Linked DNA regions of Homo sapiens: regions 1, 2 and 3 are each linked to region 4. Evidence: fine-mapped expression QTL. A gene starts in region 4. Each other region holds a variant in brackets. All regions are shown on one strand. Distances are between the middles of the regions.

The links.
Region 1: its variant is fine-mapped to the expression of LUNAR1 in whole blood (INTERVAL, PIP above 0.99).
Region 2: its variant is fine-mapped to the expression of LUNAR1 in whole blood (INTERVAL, PIP above 0.99).
Region 3: its variant is fine-mapped to the expression of LUNAR1 in whole blood (TOPMed, PIP above 0.99).

The regions. Positions count from the first base shown.
Region 1 is chr15:98,978,636-98,983,635 of GRCh38, forward strand. All of the region lies in intron 2 of PGPEP1L (pyroglutamyl-peptidase I like), which reads right to left. Among named protein-coding and RNA genes, the nearest start is that of PGPEP1L, 27 kb to the right of the region's middle. RefSeq lists an enhancer at 3,442-3,491. The variant CAACA/C (reference allele first, on the strand shown) is at 2,889.
Region 2 is chr15:99,037,177-99,042,376 of GRCh38, forward strand. No RefSeq gene overlaps it. Among named protein-coding and RNA genes, the nearest start is that of LUNAR1, 25 kb to the left of the region's middle. The variant C/G (reference allele first, on the strand shown) is at 2,160.
Region 3 is chr15:98,943,608-98,948,807 of GRCh38, forward strand. IGF1R (insulin like growth factor 1 receptor) reads left to right here. Exons shown (of 21, transcript NM_000875.5): 20 at 4,967-5,101. Among named protein-coding and RNA genes, the nearest start is that of PGPEP1L, 62 kb to the right of the region's middle. The variant G/A (reference allele first, on the strand shown) is at 3,203.
Region 4 is chr15:99,011,612-99,016,811 of GRCh38, forward strand. It overlaps LUNAR1 (leukemia-associated non-coding IGF1R activator RNA 1), which reads left to right and starts at 3,093. Exons shown (of 4, transcript NR_126487.1): 1 at 3,093-3,202. RefSeq lists enhancers at 3,202-3,301, 3,667-4,442, 4,152-4,281 and silencers at 3,462-3,541, 3,762-3,831, 3,902-3,961.

The DNA.
Region 1 (5,000 bases), 33 kb before region 4:
CTGCCCTAAGTAACCTGCCTGATTTCCAGGGCCCCACTTATTTGTGTCTTTTTCTCTAGCATTAGACTGTGTATATATATATATATATATATTTTTTTTTTTTTTTTTTTTTTGAGGCACAGTCTTGCTCTGTCACCAGGCTGGAGTGCGGTGGCATGATCTCGGCTCACCGCAACCTCCGCCTCCCGGGTTCAAGCAATTCTCCTGCCTCAGCCTCCCGAGTAGCTGGGACTACAGGCACGCGCCATCACGCCCAGTTAATTTTTGTGTTTTTAGTAGAGATGGGGTTTTACCATGTTGGCCAGGATGGTCTCGATCTCTTGACCTCGTGATCCGCCCACCTTGGCCTCCCAAACTGCCGGGATTACAGGTGTGAGCCGCCGCGCCTGGCTACAGGATATATATATATATATATTTTTATTACATTTATGGCAGCACAAATATAGCCCCAATGCCCTCAAGATTCTGGTCTGGATTCTGTGAAACAAGATAAACAGGTCAGACTGTTTCCCATGCTGACAGAGTGCGTAACCCAGGAAGGATGTGATGGATTTCATCAAATCTAAGTCCCAGAGATGGAACATCGAGCATTACTGTACGAACCAGCAAGACAGTAAAAGTACTGCTCAACTATGACAAAGCATAAGATGCAGCTGCCTGTGAGATTCATCTGATTTCAGGATGCCAAAATTAAAACAAAAAAAAAACCAAAAAACACCTGGCTCTTTGCATCAATAAAATATGGTAGGCGATGAGTACAAGAACAGGAGGACATGCACATAGCAACACAGCACAGACTTCTATATATAAGTAGTGTGGTTATTTAATAAGTGCCCAACAATTTGCAATTGCAGAAATGTGAAACCAGCCCAAATTCCCATCAATCAATGAGTGGATAAAGAAACTGCGGTATATAGATAGGATGGAATACTACTCAGCCATAAAAAGAAATGTATTAATGGCATTTATAGCAACCTGGATGGGATTGGAGACTATTCTTTTTTTTTTTTTTTTTTTTTTTTTTTTTTTTTTGGAGACAGAGTCTCACTCTGTCACCCAGGCTGGCGTGCCATGGCACAATCTTGGCTCACCGCAACTCTGCCTCCCGGGTTCAAGCGATTCTTCTGCCTCAGCCACCACAGTAGCTGGGACTACAGGCGAGTGCCACCACACCCGGCTAATTTTTGTATTTTTAGTAGAGATGGGGTTTTACCATATTGACCAGGCTGGTCTCGAACTCCTGACCTTGTGATCTGCCTGCCTCGGAGACTATTATTCTAAGTGAAGTAACTCAGGAATGGAAAACCAAACACCATATGTCCTCACTCATAAGTGGGAGCTAAGCTATGAGGATGCAAAGGCATAAGAATGATACAATGGACACTGGGGACTCGATGGGAAAGGGTGGGAAGCAGGTGAGGGATGAAAGACTACAAATTGGGTTCATGTATACTGCTTGGGTGATGCTGCACCAAAATCTCACAAATCACCACTAAAGAACTTACTCATGTGACCAAATACCACCTGTTCCCCAAAAACTTATGAAAATAAAGAATAAATAAATGAAAAGTGTCCAACTTAGTCTAACTTTTAATACAGCTAAACACACAGCCATAAAAACAAAGTGTGGACTCGTGCCATTTCCCTTGGAGCAGAGAAACCTGAACGATCAGGGAGGCATTGTCCTAGGATAGTAAAGGGAGGAGGGGGGAGGAAAAGGTTTCAGGAGGAGACAGACTTTCAAAAGGAAACAAGCCATAGGCCAAAATATGAGAAATAAATATTCATGAGTCCATCCTGATCTAATGAAATGACTACATACATAAGTAAACAAATAAGTAAGTGGGTCCAGGAGGAGGACTCAGCTCTCTCATGCACTTGCACTCCCAGTAACCGATGTAACTCCTCTACCCTGAAGCAGAGAGGAACTCCCCCACTCGAGTGTGGGCTGCGCAGAGTTACTTCCTTCCAAAGAGGACAGGATAGAAGTGGGGACAAAAAGTAACTGTATGGTGGCCAGGTGCAGTGGCTCACGCCTGTAATCCCAGCACTTTGGGAGGCCGAGGTGGACGGATCACCTGAGGTCAGGAGTTTGAGACCAGCCTGGCCAAAAGAGTGAAACCCCGTCGCTACTAAAAATACAAAAATTAGCCAGGCGTGGTGGCATGTGCCTGTAGTCCCAGCTGTTCAGGAGGCTGAGCCAGGAGAATTGCTCGAACCTGGGGGGCAGAGCTTGCACTGAGCCAAGATCACCCCCACTGCACACTAGCCTCAGTGACACAGAGAGACTCCATCTGGAAAAGGAAAAAAAAAAAAATTAACTGTATGGTAGAGAGGCCTGACAAACACTCCCTCCACCAAGTAAGATCAAGGTCATCATGGACAGTGCTGTCACACTGATACTGTGTGCCCTTGATCTGACAGGATGAAAGTGACACTTTACCTCTGTCTTCCTCCCCCTAACCTCAGTCTGATCATGAGAAAAGCAGCAGAAAAGTCCCAATTGAGGAACAAACTATCAATTCCTGGCCAGACTCTTCAAAACCATCAACGTCATCAAAAACTAGGAAAGTCTGGCCGGGCGCGGTGGCTCCCGCCTGTAATCCCAGCACTTTGGGAGGCCGAGGCGGGCGGATCACGAGGTCAGGAGATCCAGACCATCCTGGCTAACACAGTGAAACCCCGTCTCCACTAAAAATACAAAGTTAGCCGGGCGTGCTGGCGGGCGCCTGTAGTCCCAGCTACTCGAGAGGCTGAGGCAGGAGAATGGCGTGAACCCGGGAGGCAGAGCTTGCAGTGAGCCGAGATCGCACCACTGCACTCCAGCCTGGGCAACAGAGCAAGACTCCGTCTCAAAAAAAAAAAAAAAAACAAAAACAAAACAAAAA[CAACA/C]AACAAAACTAGGTAAGTCTGAGAAATGGCCACAGCCAAGACAAGCCTACGGAGACTCGAGGACTTATGAATGTGGTGTTCTGGCTGAGATTCTGGGACAGAAGAGAGGCATTAGGGGAAACTGAGGGAACCCAAATAGACTATGGACTTTATGTAAAGGTAATATATTCCTACTGGTTCCGTCATTGTGACAAATACACCATACTAACGTACAAGGTTAATAATGGGAAGAATTGAGGAATATATATTCTGTGCTATCTTCACAACTTTTCTGTACATATAAACGTATTTTTAAATAAAAAGTTTGTCTAAAAAAATAAACAGGGAACAAGCTGGAGAGGCTGCTCTGTTTAGCACCCTGGAAAAGGGTAAGGACTCTAGACTTGCTGGGGGCCATGTAGGAAGTAGGGGGACCCACAGTAACATCCGGGAAAAATGTGGGGGTCATTCTGAAAGATCATCTTGGTCTGGTTTTTCTGGCTTGTCTTCCTGTCAACGTGGGAATGGATTTGGGGTTTAGCTAGAACTAAACATATGACTCACTTGTCTGTGAATAGCAAACTTTTCTCCAAATAAGCAGAAAAAATATGTTTCCTTGAGCGTTTACTAGGAGCACGGTGTTTGTGGGGAGGACTGTGAAGCCACAGCAGACACCCTCCATGCATGTGGACCGTGGGGTCTCCTCCACCAAGGTGTGGATTCCATCTGCACTCGCCTCGATCCTTGGGAGCTCCCTGGAGTGCGGCCCCTTGTGCAGGCGACTGGGACTATGAGAGCACAGGCTCTTTGCCATGGACTCACACAGTCCCCATATTCTTGTGGATTCTTGTGGATTCTTGTGTCATTTCGAAGTGAGAATGCAAGGACAGTCCTATTTCATGCTGTTCCAAGGCCAGAGTGAACTGTGTATCACCACTTGGTTACTTCTCTTCCCACTAACAAGGTGGGGCTCACACTACAGTCACCAGACTGAAAAAAGGAGGTGTAAGACGTCATGGGAAAGTGCATTTGGGTTATCCAACCGTGGAGGCCAATGTTCAGATAACCCACTGAAGCGGGTGCCCAGGACATGGTTGACGCTGAGCTGGGGGCTATCATAGGTGAGGTCTGTGTAAACTAGAGAGATGTCTGAGGTCTCCCTTCCTCCTCACTCTGGTTATTTTTATCTGAGGCTTTTTTTTTTTTTTTTTTTTTTTTTTTTGAGACAGAGTCTTGCTCTGTTGCCCAGGCTGGAGTGCGGGGGCATGATCTTGGCTCACTGCAACCTCCGCCTCCCGGGTTTGAGTAATTCTCATCCCTTAGCCTCCTGAGTAGCTGGGATTATAGGCACCAGCCACCACGCCCAGCTGATTTTTGTGTTTTTAGTAGACACAGGGTCTCACCCTGTTGGCCAGGCTGGTCTCAAACTCCTGGCCTCAAGTGATCCACCTGCCTCAGCCTCCCAAAGTGCTGGGATTATAGGCGTGAGCCACCGCACCCAGCCTGAGGCTTTCTCATTTTAGTCAAGAAAACAAAACAAACCCACTCTGGACTAATTGGAAAAATGTCTGTCATATATGTGTTTGTATTCACCTAGGTTGGAAAAAGGTTTTGTCCTGGGATTTGGTGGGAAGAATAAAGGTTCTCTTGGGAAAAAAAAAAAAAGAAGAATCAAGAGAAACAATTTTCTTTCACTTGGAAAGGTTTGCAGTTACTTTCCTATCCCTGAACAGGACTCAGCTTTCATCCTAAAGCACCGTTCAGCTTAGAAATTCTTTGACTGTTCTGATTCACGGCTCTTTATTCATTATTATTATTATTATTTAAAGCAACATGTAAGAAAGGCACCAGGCCACCTCATCTTTGGGGCAAAGAGAAATTATTCTGCATGTCAAGTTTATCAAATATGAGAAGAGCCCTGACCTCTTGGCTGCCTAGGCTGTATTTTAAGTGCAGTTACGTAATGTCTTGGCCCAACTGACCCTGGGTGTGTTTTCAAAAACCCTTGTTTTATTTGCTGACTCACCAGGCTGAGGCACTTAAGAGCTAAGCATGTAATTTCTTTTGAATGAATATGAGGTGGTAGTGGCTCCAAAATTAGAGTATCCAGAAACCAGGGAATAATGATG
Region 2 (5,200 bases), 26 kb after region 4:
AACTCAGACTGTAGTGATTTGAGATACTCAACAGAAACAAACACAAATCCTCTTGTGAGAGTACTTCCTTCTAGATCTCAAATTATTCCTACAAATAGTTTTTAGTGACAAAAAGCAGCATACACTAAAAATAATCAAGCACATAGGAAAATAGACATTGTGAATGAGAAAATAAGAAACAATACAAAATAGAAACATTTAAAGACTTCATATTTCAGAACTTCATATTTCAGATCTGTCAAACACAGATCATAAACAAATATGCTTCCTACATTTAAAGATTAAAGACAGCTTTAAAAATGTATATAGGGAATAGGAAACTATAGAGTATGATAGAAGATTTGAAAAAGAACTAAATAAAATTTCTACAAATGAAAAGTTCAAGAATTGAAATGAAGAACTCAATAGATGCATGTAAAAACATTCTAGACATAGCCAAAGAAAGAATTTAATAAGATGGAAGATATGCTGGAAGACATTTTCCAGGATGCAGAACAAAAAGATGAACATACAGAACAGAAGTTACAAGACATGGAAGATAAACAGAGAAGATCTAACATACGTTTAAGCAGAGTCCCTGAAGAGAGAAGGGAGAGAATGATACAGAGGCATTATTTTAAAAGATTATGGCTGATAATTCAATAATGAATCATTCCATAATGAATTTAACAATGAATTCAAAGCAAGATAAGTAAATGAAAATCTAGATACATTGTAGTGAAACATCAGCACACCTAAAATAAATAGAAAGTCATAAAGGAGTCAGAGTAAAAAGATGTACTTCCTTTAGTGGAGTGACAGACTGACAACTAACTTATCAGCTGTAAGAATGGAAGTCATAAGATAGTGGAATGATATCTTCAGTAGAATGAAAAAAATGGCTGCCAACCAAGGATTCTATACTTAAAGACAACATTTTTCAAGTATAAGAGCAAAACAAACAAACAAAAATCTGCTTTCAGAAACAAAAACTGTGACTTCACCACTGGTGGACTTTTATTAAAAAAAAAATTCTAAAGGCAGAAAGAAATTTGTCCCAGAAAGAAGATAAAGAAGGAATGAAGAAGCAAGAAAGAATATATAGCCAATTCTAAATAAACATTGACTGTATAAAATAATCATAGTTTCTTGTGAGGTTAAAAGAAGAGAGAGAGATGAGGGGAATTGTAGTGGTGACAGCTCTTTTCTTGCACTGAATCTCCACATATTAGCAAACAACAATTACAAAAAACTGTGACAAGATATCTTCAAAAACCCTAAAATACAAGTGGATATGTGGACAAACCACCAATAACCTCAAGATCTTTATGATTTTGGAATCTGTGTGGAAAGGGGAAAAAAGAAGCAACAGAGTGGCATTTGATATACCTGAGAATAGCAGAACCCCAGTAGGAATTTGCTGGAAAACATTGAGAACAGCAGTTGAATCTAGGAGGGGCAAATACTGGGCAATGATATATATGGATCATGAACCCTAAAAGCTAGCTGTCTAGGGCTTCCTTCTGAGACACAGTCCCAATGAGGAGAAAGTGCTGGAAGTAGAGTTAAAACTGAGCAGGATGAAGACAATATAGATGAAGGAAAGAGAAGGTCCAGTTCAAAATAGGAGAAGGAACCAGAGACGGGAAATCTCAGAAAGTAAGCCATTATATTTTTAATGTACATTGCACAAAAACAACAGAAGAAGACACTTTATGTTAGAAAATTTTCCTGAACCCCACTTCATTCTAAAGTCAAGAATATGAATTTCACCTAAAACTAAGGTCAAATTCTGTACAAAGTTAGAATTTTTTAAAAAGAGAATAAGGATCAAAAATAACAAAACACACAAAAGTCATGCCCACAAAATAGACCAAAAAATGTAATTTACTATTTCAAAACAATTAAAAACATTAAGAAAATTATAAAAGACATGGAAATACATCAGCGTTATAAACACTTAGAAATGAAGTGAGAGAAATAATTAAGAAGCAAAAGACAAATTCACTTCAGAAATGAAAACTAAACTAGATGGAACATGGGAAAGAATAAACAACAAATAATGCCTTAAGAGGAATATAAGATTTTTAAAAAGTTTTCAAACAAAAAAGAAATGAAGAAAGGGATAAAGAGGATTTAGGAGAAAGTAACAGTTGCAAATGATAGCCAAGGATTATATG[C/G]CTTCTTCAAGAAAACCTGAGAAAGCAAACCAAGAGAAGGACCAAAAGAAATATTAATACTATAATTAACCCAAGAAAACGTGCCTAAAATTGTAATTAAAGGATTTGAAATTACATGTTCAGGAGGACACTATGTACTTATGAATATTGACAAAAAGTTATTAACACCTGGAGATATTCTAGTATAACTACTGTACTTTAGAGATGTTACTTGGTTGGGAGGCTGAGGCAGGAGAATCACTTGAAGCCAGGAGTTCGAGACCAGCCTGGGCAATATAGCAAGACCCAATCTCTAAAATAAATAAATAATAAAAATAAAAGTTATTTGGGCATAAAAAGAGAGAGAGAATGGAACTTGAATAGAAAAGAATAATAGATCATCATTAGACTTTTTGAAAGCAGTACTTTATGCCAGAAAAAAAAAATAGTCACATATTTAAGAAAAGGTGCATCCAGGATTTTATATTGCAGAAAAATTGGATTTCAAATATTAAAAACAAACTATTATCAACAAGAAAGATCTAAGGGAATATTGTTTCCATGAGTCTAAGAAGTTTAGCAGAGAACAAAACTTCAGACAACCAAAATGACCCTTACCGATGTGAAGGCAGATGGCAAGGATTAAATTTAACTTGTAGAATTAAGACTGAATAGTGGCTAAAAAGGATTGTGTATAGACTGTCCTGACTATATATTCTGATAATACATAGCACAGCTTTTGAAAAATGGAGAGAGGGCTGGCGCGGTGGCTCACGCCTGTAATCCCAGCACTTTGAGAGGCCAAGGGGGGGGCAGATCACAAGGTCAGGAGATCGAGACCATCCCGGCCAACATGGTGAAACTCCCGTCTCTACTAAAAATACAAAAATTAGCCGGGTGTGGTGGCACATGCCTGTAATCCCAGCTATTTGGGAGGCTGAGGCAGGAGAATCGCTTGAACCAGGGAGTCGTAGGCTGCGGTGAGCCAAGATCACGCCACTGCATTCCAGCCTGGCAACAGAGCGAGACTCTGTCTCAAAAAGAGAAAAAAAAAGAAAAAAAGAAAAATGGAGAGAGAATGGGAGAACATATGAAAAAGATTTATTTTAATGTTTTAAATAATCATATTGATAGTAAATTAGTATTTTAGTATTTTTATTCCATGTCTGTTGTGTGTGTACTATGGGATTCAGGAAATTATTAATTATGAGAAATTCTAATTATATAATTCCCTGTATTCTTGAGAACCAGGATTTGTGATAGAGAAGAAAGGAGTTACAGGTGTAATACAGAAGAAGTTAAATAAAATTGGGGTAGTTTTGAATTAGAAGTATCAGTATTGACTCATGAGCTATTTTGTTTTTAAATATATAATTCTGGCCAGGCAAAATGGCTCATGCCTGTAATCCCAGCACTTTAGGAGGCTGAGGAGGACAGAACACTTGATGTCAAGAGTTCAAGACCAGCCTGACCAACATGGTGAAACCCCATCTTCACTAAAAATACAAAAAATTAGCTGGGCGTTGTGGCACGTGTCTGTAGTCTCAGCTCCTTAGGAGGCTGAAGCAGGAGATTCCCCTGAACCCAGGAGGTGGAGGTTGCAGTAAGCAGAGATCATGCCACTGCACTCCAGCCTGGGTGACAGAGCAAGACTCAGTCTCAAAAAAATTGTGCATATGTGTACAACATATTTGAATATGTGTTCTAATACATCAGAATTAGAAACACTCAGAAGTGTGTGTGTATGTGAGTGTGTGTGTGTGTGTGTGTGTGTGAGAGAGAGAGAGTATTTAGCGCCACAGAAAAGAAACAATGACCTGTCTAGAGAAATGAGCTTTCCTAGTGCTGGTATTATGTATTCAAGTTCCACATCACACGACAAAGGACCAGGACTTCTTGCAGAAATGACTGAATGCAGGTCTGGTCCTGGAACATCTTGTCATATCAGAAAGCAGCAATGTTAAAGACTTCTAGCATCATGTCCAAAGGACTCAAGAACTAACCTAAAGAGGTTCGCACTAGCCAAAGTCAGAATAATTTGAAGCTACAGTAAAGATAATGTTTAAATTCGTGAGTACATAATAATATTGAAACAATAAAAAAGAACTAGTCACCCTCAGAGGATGACAGGAAACCAATTCATTATCTTGGAAACTGATGAATAAAGGAAGAATCTAGCATCTATCCCCGTTTCTATATGAACTGTACTGCTGGGTAACCAGATAGCAGTTGGAGAAGGATCTCCTTAGAACAGTATTACAACCATTAAATAACAAAACAATAAAAAAGATAGAATGTCACCATTTTGCATCCCCAGTGAATTATTAGATGTAGGCACTAAGCATCAACAACTGCTAACATCAATAAAAGAGACAACAGGGCTTTATATGCCTCCTATTGTCTTGCCAAACCAAGGGATCAAATCTGAATCTGATACAGTTTCTGGATCCAGCTGCCCAAATTTCTGGAAATACAGAAGGCAGAGAAATGCAGTGTACTGTGAGGATGTGAGCAGCAAACTCTAAGCTGAAGGAAGCTAAACCACTCAGGGAGAGCCCAGGTTCCCCAAGAGATTATCTCTACGGAAAAGAAAAGGATGAGAGGGAATTTACAGATTAAAAGAGACTTGAAGTCTTAAATTCTTTAACTCGGCAAAGCAATGCTGTAGTTTTATGGATACACCATTTGGTTGATAAAATTATTATTATTATTATTATTATTATTTTGAGATGGAGTCTTGCTCTGTTGCCCAGGCTGGAGTGCTGTGGTGCAATCTCAGCTCACTGCAACCTCCGCCTCCTGGGTTCAAGTGATTCTCCTGCCCCAGCCTCCCGAGTAGCTGGGATTACAGGTGCATGCCACCACACCTGGCTAATTTTTGTATTTTTAGTAGAGACAGGGTTTTACCATGTTGGCCAGGCTGGTCTCAAACTCCTGACTTCAGGTGATCTGCCCTCCTCAGCCTCCCAAAGTGCTGGGATTACAGGTGTGAGCCACCACACCTGGCCAAATAAAATTATTTTTAAAGGAACTAATAAGTATAGAAACCAGCACAGTGGTTA
Region 3 (5,200 bases), 68 kb before region 4:
TGGAAGCCCATCGACCGAGGGATCAGAGGCCTCTCAGTAGTATTGTTTATTGCAGTTCCTTGGCAACATTGCAGAGAGGCAGTCAGGTTCTGAAATACAACTGAGGTTATTGGCAGGCTGAGGCCCTGGCACAGGCACCTTCTAGAATATCAGCTAGTGTCTTGGCTTTCCTCTGGGGGGATCCCGTTGCTGTTGTGTTACAGAAATGGTAGTTGTTTACTCCAACAGTCTGGATGACCGCATAGAGGAACTATTTCAATAGTGACTGACATCATTTTTTTTTTAACCTCGTAAACCTTTCACAGTTCAGGGGCCTTGGATCTTATTTTGAAGACAGGTGCAAATTGGAAATAGCATTTGAATATGACCCGGCAAAGCATGATTGCTTCTTAAGCTCAAGTATGAGATCTGTTTTGCAATCAGCTTGTCCAAGATGGTTATCTCTTCACTGTCAAATCAAAGTGCTCTGCATGGTGTTTAGAGATTGGGATGGTGAGGAGAGAGCAAGCCTGGGTATGTGCATGCATCTGTTTATTCTAGGCTTCGTGCCTCCAGGAGCTTGGAGGTCAGCTTGTAGTATAATAAAATAGAAAACTATACAGCCGGGGAGAACAGAAGCAGAATAGAAGGATAAAGTGTTGTTCATATCTCTCGGGCAAATTTTACCCAAATTCTGACGAGCAGTTACTGCACAAGCAACAACAAAGGGACCTAGAGTGTGTTCATTGCCAATTCTGTCCATTTGGCTACATAACTACTGTGAACCAATACAAAAAGATATGTATAAACATGAATAGGCGTTTGGTATTCATTCCATGAAATGCTCAGGCATTGACAGCGCTTCAGGTTTTGTTTGCTTTTTAACACAGGCTTTGAGGATAGCACAGGTCAGGAAGGCTAGGGCGTTGGAGCAGGTTTCTCAGCGGTCCAGGCTCTAAACTAAAGCTGTCCCTCTCAAAAGAATGGAAATGATTTCAGATTGTATTCAGCAGCACGAAGCAATGATTCCTAAATAGTTAAAAATCTAGAAAGAAACACTAAGAATTGTATTGGGCTTTGTAGAAGAGACCCCAGAATTTTAGGATTTGGGATGTATCCCTGCAGTCAGGCCCAGTCCCCAGTGCACCTGCAGATCTTTGACAGCTGCTGGTTGAGCTTCTGCTAAGAGGTTTCCTTCCAGGGACTCCATGTTCACTGCCTCACAAAGGCAGGCCAGCCTCATGCTTTAGACATCCTTGCTCTTAGCAAATCTTTCGTGTTCTGCTACGTCAGCCTCTGTGTGACACCCATTGGACCTTCTCTCTGTAGCACAATTGCATACCTTGCTCTGTTCTTGATAAGATAGGTCTAGGAGTCATCGAAGAGGTGTGTCTGTTCTAGCCAGAACACCTCCAAGTTTCCTGCTGTCTTCCAGGACTTCATTCCCAGGCCCTTGGGCACTGTGGCTGCTCTCCCTGCAGCTCCCTGTAGCACCATGTCCCTCTGAAATGACAAGGGTGCCCTCTAGGCATGGAGGAAACCAGACGAAGGACTGGGGAGCTGCACCCCACAGCCTAGAGCTGTGCTTCTTCCCGAGCATCTGGATCACCCAACACATAATCTTTATTTTTTATTAAGAAGCTTTCCAAATAGTCACAAATAGCCAAGGTTATTTGCTTCTTTCATGACTAATTACCATCTGTGGGGAATGTGGATTTCTCTGTAGGTTTTAATTTGCTGGTGAGTGGGCCATTGCTACCATCCCCTCCTGGTGTGGGGAAGTATAGTTACTGAATGCTGCCTCCAGCCAGCACGGGCATTGCAGGGGGACTCACAGCCGCCGGTCTTCCCCCTGGGGAAACAACGTCAAGGTTCCTAATTAGAAAGGGCTTTACACAGAGACATGTATCTACTGTTTGAAGATTAAATCTGTCCATGAAATGGAAGACTTGATTTTATATGAAGTCATGAAGAGCCAACACCACATAGTAAAATACCGGCTTTGAAAAACACAGAGGTGTTGCATATTTCTCGGTGCTTCTGACTGGCTGTGTGGCCTTGGTTAAACCTCAGAGCTTCTCTGGCCTTCGGTTGCTCCATCTGTAAGGCAAGGTCTGTCTCGAGAAGTCTGCGGTACCTGAATAGATGTTGAAATGGCTCCTGTGGCAACTGGTATTGTGTAGAGATGGTTCAGTGTCCACACCTTGCAGTTGTCACATTAAGCTGTGAAGGACGACTGACTCTAGCACTCAGTGGTCCTCAGTGGCAGGTGATGTTGACCTCAGACAAGAGTTGCTCAGGAGATAGGCTTTGCAGTTCACCTCGACAAGCGTTTGTGGAGAGCTAGGTCTGCTACCTCCTGTATCGTTGCCTGTGGGTGATGGTAAGGCTCTTGGGGGTGTGGAAGATGCGGGGATGATGATGATGACGATGATGACGATGACGACGATGACAGCGTCGTCGTCGTCCTGGTCCTGGAAGGATAAAGTCTTGTGGAGAAGAGGAGGCAATTCTGACAGTTTGGGGTTGCATCATCTTCTTCACAGAAGAGATGAAGTTGTGTAGGCACCCTAAGTATGGATTGTCACAAAAAGAGCACTAGGAAGCGGGGCGGGGCGGGGCAGGGGTGGGGGGTTCCTGGCAGTGGGAATGCTGGGCAGGCATGGCAGTAGGGAGCACCTGCTGCAGGTGGGGTTGGTGAGGTTTCCTCGTGGGACTTAGGCTGCAGAGAGATCAAGACAGGCCTCAGCTGTTGTATTAGGCATCCTGGACTAATTCTTTAAGCCCTGTTAAGGTTTCTGAACCAGAGGGTGATTAGAGCTGTGCTTGAAGTTCTTGTTAGCCGGAGTATACAGCTGCATTGAGCAAGATGTTGTAACCAAAGGAGAGGTGGTGGTGGGCCAGGCAAGCAGGATCCTGCACACTCAGGGAGCTCTGAGGGACGGAAGGAGGGTGCCAGACCTTGGACAGATGTGAGCCTGGGTGGACAGTTCGCAGTGGGACTCCGAGGAGGCCAAGGGCATGGGTGACAGCAGGCAGACTGCTCGGGTGGAATGGGCATCAGCTGCAGGGAAGCCGGGGGAAGAACAGGGCACAAATCGGAGTTCAGTGTGAGACGCAGTGAGTTTGTGGGTAGCCCAGTAACTGGGAACTTGGAATGGAGCAGTTGGGCCGGGAGGGCCAGGGTGGGAGCCGTGCCGTGAGAACTGGCTGCCTGCAAGCC[G/A]CTGACACAGCCAGGAAGGGCACGTGGGGCAAGAGGAGAAGTGGGTCTGGGAGGGAGCCACATCCTCAGGCCATTTCCCAGACCAGCCTGCAGTCAGCAAAAGCAGAGAGCTAGTCATTTCTTCTTATTTTATTTTTAATTTTTTGTTGTTGGAGAGCTAGTCATTTCTTGTACCAAGCTGCATTTCAGATGTGTGGGTACTACTGCCACTGGCATCTGAGGCATGCTGCCTGTATGGCTGGGCTGGTTGTGGAAGGCAGAGCTTCCCGCACAAAGCTGATGGAGAGCCCCTTCTCCCCTGGGCCCAGGCCTCTCTAAACTGCACTTTTGGCCTCTGGGTGTCTTGTACAACATGAAGACGACAGCATTTCTTGGTCACTTGTAATTAAAAAGGACCTTGGGTTGGTCTGTCCTCTGATTGCTAAGATTCTATTTCTGTCTAACATCTACTTTTAGTATCAATTTGTACAAAAATCTTTGATTCACCGAAAGTAGCTGAAGCAGCGAATAAAACGTTCTCATACAGTCAGGAGCACTGTGGGCTTGGGCACAAGGTCAAGGTCCCAAGAGCTCTTGGTTGGAAATCTCCTGCCCCAGGTTTTTCCATGTGGCTTGACCAGCACCTGCAGCCCAGGACAGGTCCAGCTAGAATCCCTGCTCCCCACCCTGCTCCCGCCCCTACTTGGTGATGAGTAGCCTATTTTACTCCACCAAAGTGAACCACATGGAAAGGCACACAGGTCAGGGAGAATTTGTGAATTACGGAATTTGCCCTGGGAGGGCACATTTGTTTTGCAGATTCCAGCATTGTCTTTTTTAACATTCTGTCTGAAAGTTGTGTGTGTACTCTCTGTTTTGTTTTCCAGTGGTTTGATCTTCTAAACTGGCAAAGCTGCATGCATATGGCAGAATTGCTCACTACAAAGTTATTCCTCAGCCAACTTCTCTGCTTAAGGATTCTTTGTCCATGATACCCCCTCCCAGCCAGTGCAGCCCACCCTGGTCCCCCCACCTGTGACACAGAGGCCCTGCAGGCCAGCAGCTCCCCAGCTCTGTTGTGGGTGGGGGAGCAGCAGGAGTTCTCTTCTCCCTTGGCCCAACTGGACCTCAAGATCCCTATAGATCTTCTAAACATTCCAGGTCCCAGGCCCTCACCCCAGACCAATCAAATCAGAGTTTCTATTGGGTGCCCAGCCCTCTGTTTAAAAACCTCCCCAGGAGATTCTCCTGTGCAGCCGGCAGTGAGAACCACCTGGGTAGAGGTTTCCAAAATTGTCTGATTGTAAAAATCACCTGAGGAGCTTGGTAAAGCTTGACTGTCCCAGGCCTCATTTGAGGCTACTAAGTCAATGTCCAGGCTGGGGCTTGGACAAGAATGTCATTCTTTTTGGGTCAAAGCCAGGTTAGGTGATACCGCCTTGCCAGATAAATGGCCGGGACTAGGTAGATGCTGAACCCAGTATGCTCTGCGTTCAAAGCACAGATCAGGGGCTTCCTGACCGTGCAAGGGATGCCGGAAGCGCCCTCACCACCTTCCTTAGCTCCACCACCGGGGCTGAATTTAGTTTACGGGGAACATTAGCAGCAACAGAGGGAGGATGATATCCCGCACTTAGCCCAGGGCCTGGCTCGCTGTCTGACAAGCACTGTCACCATAGTAAGGACAGTTTATCTGCTCGGGATGTAAGAAGTGCTGGAAAGGAGGGGGCAGCATTGTTCAGTCCATCCCTTTCCAAGCTCCTCACAGTTTTTTTCTCCCTGTAGGTCCTTCGGGGTCGTCCTCTGGGAGATCGCCACACTGGCCGAGCAGCCCTACCAGGGCTTGTCCAACGAGCAAGTCCTTCGCTTCGTCATGGAGGGCGGCCTTCTGGACAAGCCAGACAACTGTCCTGACATGCTGTACGTACTTCCTGGGCCCTCCGTGCTCTTCTGAGTTCTCTTCTCAAATACCTGTTTTCTTGGGTCACAGGAGATTAGGAGATTAAAGCCATTCTCTCT
Region 4 (5,200 bases):
CTTAACCAATCCTCCTGCCTTGGCCTCCCAAAGTGTTGGGATTACAGGTGGGAGCCACCTCTCAGGGCCTAAGAGTTTTCTTATATATCAGCAATAACTAATTCTAATGTAATTGGAGAAAAGAGCCCATCCACAATGCCCTTCAAATATCAGAAATCTCTAGGAATAAACCTGGCAAGAAATGTATGAGATCCTTTTGTGGAAAACTGTGGAACTGGCGGGGTGCGGTGGCTCACGCTAGTAATCCCAGCACTTTGGGAGGCCGAGGCAGGTGGATCACCTGAGGTCAGGAGTTCCAGACAAGCCTGGCCAACATGGTGAAACCCTGTTCTCTACTAAAAATACAAAAATTAGCTGGGCGCGGTGGCTCACGCTAGTAACCCCAGCACTTTGGGAGGCCAACGCAGGTGGATCACCTGAGGTCAGGAGTTCCAGACAAGCCTGGCCAACATGGTGAAACCCCATCTCTACTAAAAATACAAAAATTAGCCAGGTGTAGTGGTTCATGCCTGTAATCCTAGCTACTTAGGAGGCTGAGGCAGGAGAATCACTTGAACCCAGGAGGAGGAGGTTGCAGTGAGCCGAGATCGCACCATTGCACTCCAGCCTGGGCAACAAGAGTGAAACTCTGTCTCAAAAAAAAAAAAAAGAAAAAGAAAAGAAAAAAGAAAAGAAAACTGTGGGACTTTAAGAAAAAAACATAGAAGACCCGAATAAAACAAAGGATGCCATGTTCTGTAATGGGAAGATTCGAAACTTTAAAAATGTTAATGCAAACCGATGTTAAAGACTAGATGCAACTGGCTTGCCTTCCCAGATATCCAAATATATGCTAAAAGCTAGGGTAATTAAAATAGTGCAGTGTTGTTGTAGAAATAGGAAAACTGTCAATAAAACAGCTAGAATGTGTATGAGAATTTAATATATAGTTAAAGAGATAATTCAAATTAGTAGCGGAAAGAATATACCATTTAATGGTGTGGGAACCATGAGATATAGCTAGATCCATTCCTTATGCCATATAGGTCAGTAAATTATGATTGGATTAAAATTCAAATCTGAAAATCAAGACAGTAAAAATACTGGAAGTAAATTTAGAAGAATTATTTTCTAGTTTTGGAGTAGTTTCAAAATACTCATGCGAGACGCAAAACTCAGAAACTAAAAGGAAAAGAGGAGGTATTTGACTAATACTGACTTTGGATATAGGAGTTGAATGAGAAGCAGGGAACTTTTCAGTTCATTATTCTTTATATATACTGTATACACACACACACACATACATATTTTAAAAGAACTGTTCAAGCTCTATACATGTAATTTTTTTTTTTTTTTGAGACAGAGTCTCGCTCTGTTGACCAGGCTGGGGTGCAGTGGCGCGATCTTGGCTCACTGCAAGCTCCGCCTTCCGGGTTCACACCCTTCTCCTGCCTCAGCCTCCGGAGTAGCGGGGACTACAGGCGCCCGCCACCACGCCCGGCTAATTTTTTTTGTATTTTTAGTAGAGACGGGGTTTCACCGTGTTAGCCAGGATGGTCTCGATCTCCTGACCTCGTGATCCGCCCGCCTCGGCCTCCCAAAGTGCTGGGATTACAGGCATGAGCCACCGCGCCCGGCCCTATACATGTTATTTTTTAAAAACAAGAGAACTTTAAAAAATGTAACAAAAACGTACATCAAAAAATGTATACTTCAGACCTTGAAGAAATATATTCTACATTTTTACAGCAGACATTAATGAACCTTTAGTCCTGTGTGCCTGTGGCTGACTGCCACAATTACTACTTGAGACCGTCACTATGACAGTTATTACCGTTACTACTTGAGACCGTCACTACGACAGTTATTGTTACTACTTGAGACCGTCATTACAGGACTGAACGAAAGGACAAACGTAGAAATGATTAAAGAAATCTGTTTTAAAGGAAGGGGAAACCGGGAAGAAGGGAGCTCCCTGCTTCTAGTGAGCGAAGGCAGCCCCCCGAGCTTCCACAGCCCTTCGCATTCATTGGGAGAATGAGCAGGGAGGAGGCCCTAAGACTGGTCAGCTGTTTGATTATCACAAGTTCTCATTACTAACAGGCTTCAGTTGTGTCTAATCCTAAACACTTGCACCTGGGTGGTGACTGCCCTCAGCAGTCCTTCTGGGCGGCAGACACAGGTTGTCAGTTTGCCAACACCCTGCTCTCATGAGAAACAGTTTGCTGCTTACTCACGTGGCCTCCAGTGGTATACTGAGTTGATCACGACCCTCAATCTTTCGGCCCCTAAGAGCCGCAGGGGGGTGGGGAGGTGCCAGGCTGCTGAGGCCTTTGGGTTCCTAGGCTGCTGGCATTTTAAAACCACCACTGTATTCCACCTCCCCTTGGATAACACGCAGAAACAGGCCAAGAAGAAATTACCTGCTGTTGGTTATTTCTATTTCAAATGAATACTAGCTGAACATTTACTAAATGACATTGTCAGGTTTCAGCAAAAGCGGCCTGTAATAGTTGGGTGAGGACAGGGAAAGACTTTGAAATGGGCAGAAAAGATTACGGGATGTCCTGCAGGTTCAGTGTGCTTTGGCCTATTTTTCAACTGTCTAAATTTTCGCCGCCAAAGTCGCCAAAACCGCCTCCGCCGCAGCCTCCTCAAAAGCCGCCCCCGCCGCCGCTGCAGCCAAAGCCTCCTCCTCCTCCTCTTCCTTCTCTCTCCTCCCTCACCTCCTCCTTCCTTCTAGGAAGCTTACTGGAGTGAAACTTGAACGTTTTCAAAAAAGGTTAACGCAAATGATTCTTGTCCAAAGAAACAGAAATAATAGAAGTGTGAAGGGGCGTGGGAGGGGGTTGACATGTGCCGCGTTCAGGCCCGGGGCACCGGCGAGGGTGGGCGTGTGAGCGGGGGGTGGGGGCGTTAACGGTGTCTTCTCCCCACAAATGAAAGAGAAATAGTAAATTCTCCTGGGGTGGCGAATCAGGTGGGAAGGTGGAGCCCACAATCTTTGCAAACTCTCTGGGGAGCCAGGGGTTGGTAGCTGGGAAGACTGTTGGGTGGTGACCCTGGGGGAGGGGAAGGGGCCGGGGAGCGGGGAACGGGGGCAGCCCCTGGGGAGGAATGGGAGAGGGAGGAGGACGCCAGGGGCACAGGGACAGCCTCCGGGGCGGGGCGCGGCGCCAGCCTAGCCCGAGGATGGAGGCTGAGGCCGCCTGTTGAGTCACAGGTAAGGGGAGCCGCTCTGGCCAGGCCCAGGGCCGCCCTCGTTCCTCCCGGAGCGCAGCGACAGCTCCTCCCCGCGTCTCGGGTTTCAATGGCTCGACCTGCCGGAAAGCCCCGGGCCCGCGCGCTGCAACAGGATCCCGTAAACAGCGCGCGGCGGCCAGGGAAACTTTCCCCGGAGCCGGCGCCGGGGTGCGGCGAGCCGCGCACCTGTTGTTGCCTCGGGACTGAACTGCAGCGGCGGACCGGCGAGCGGGGGGCCTGGACGTCGAGTGCGGGGCCGGCGGGGCCCCCGCACTCACCCTCGGGAGCGTTTAAGTCCCTCCCGGGAAGAAGGGGGAGGAAATGCTCGGGGGAGCCGGAAGAGGCACTGCCAGCATCAACTCCACGCGCGCCCCGGCCTCGGCGCCCGGCCTCGGTCACGGCTTCTCTCGGAGGTCCCCCGGGGACACCGGGCGCCGGGACTGACCCGGGCTTGCTTCCCAGGCGCGGGAGCGTGGGGAAGTCCCTGCCTTCCCAGGGTCTCCGCTGTCTTGTCTGTGAAATGGGAACCGCACAGTGGGGGAGAATTCTTTACGGCCGCTCGGGTTACTGCCAGCGCCCCTTCCGCCCCCGCCACCTTCCCTGCGCCGGGACGCCTCGGCTGTGGTCGGGGGCGCAGAGGTGGAGCGGGTCGGGGTCGCCGGAGCCCGGGCTTCGTGCCATTTCTGGCCCTGGAGCGCGCGCGTCCCCGAGCCTGTCGCTTCCCGGGCCCCAGGGGGTGCCATGCTTGGCCCTATCTCCAGAAAACCAGGCAGAGCGGGTGCACCTTCTGAATCTGAAAGCACGTGAAACAAAACACCCCAAAGCCCACCAGCCCCTGAGGTGCTCGGATAGGAGCAAGAGTAGCGCCCTTGGATGCTGAGAAAGTGCCTCTTTACCTCCTGCCCCTTCCCTTCTCCTTGTGGGGACATGTGGCGGGGCCGGGTGTGAGAATGAGACCCGTTTCCCGAGGGAAGGAGGGCGCGGTGACCGGCTGTTCCGGCCCCTACACGTCCAGTCCGACCCGTTAGGCGCCCTGGCCGCAGGTGGCCCGCCCTCCCCAGCAGCAGCTCAGCCGCAGACTGGCCACTTTCTCCCGCCACACGTCTCGGTAGGGAACAAAAAATCTCATAAAGGCTCCTCTACCTTTTCTTGGAAGGCAACTTTAGAGGCGATTTACGCTCTTTTATGACTTGCTCTAAAAGCTGTGACTTAGAGTTGCTTTTCTGCTGATTTTAGGCGAGTTAAGGAGGGAAGGTAGCGATTAGCCAATTGTATGGATTAGTTACATTTTTCGTGGACGTTTTAGTTGGCCTAGAGATTGAGAAAGGGTTTTTTGTTTATTTGTGTGTTTGTTTTGAGACAGAGTCTCTGTCACCCAGGCTGGAGTGCAAAGGCGCAATCTCATCTCACTGAAACCTCCGCCCCGCCCCCACCCCCTCCCGGGTTGAAGCAATTCTCCTGCCTGAGCCCCTCGAGTAGCTGCTTCTACAGGCGCCCGTCACCATGCCCGGCTAATTTTTGTATTTTTAGTCGAAACGGGGTTTCACCTTGTTGGCCAGGCTGGTTTCGAACTCCTGACCTCAAGTGATCCGCCCGCCTAGGCCTCGCAAAGTGCTGGGATTATGGGCCTGAGCCACCATGCTCGGCCGAGAAAGGTTTTTTGTCTTTCGTTTTGGAAGGGGAGATACTATTTCTTTTTTGATTGTTTTCTCTATGCTTCTTTCTAGAAAGTTGGGTTTCACGGTTGTGGATGGCAAGTACTGTTTCCAGTTTACATGTTGGAGAACTAGGACGAGGAAAAAAAGTGATTTGCTCTTTGAATCTCATCTTCCTCATCTACAAAATAGAGGAGATTCTGCCCACTTAGGGGCTTATTGTAGAGCAGTATTACACCGAGGTGCTCCCAGAAGCTCCTCCCTGCCCCTAGGCCTGTGAGTGATTTCATGAGTCAGAGGGTTCCTTCCAAGGATTGCTTTAG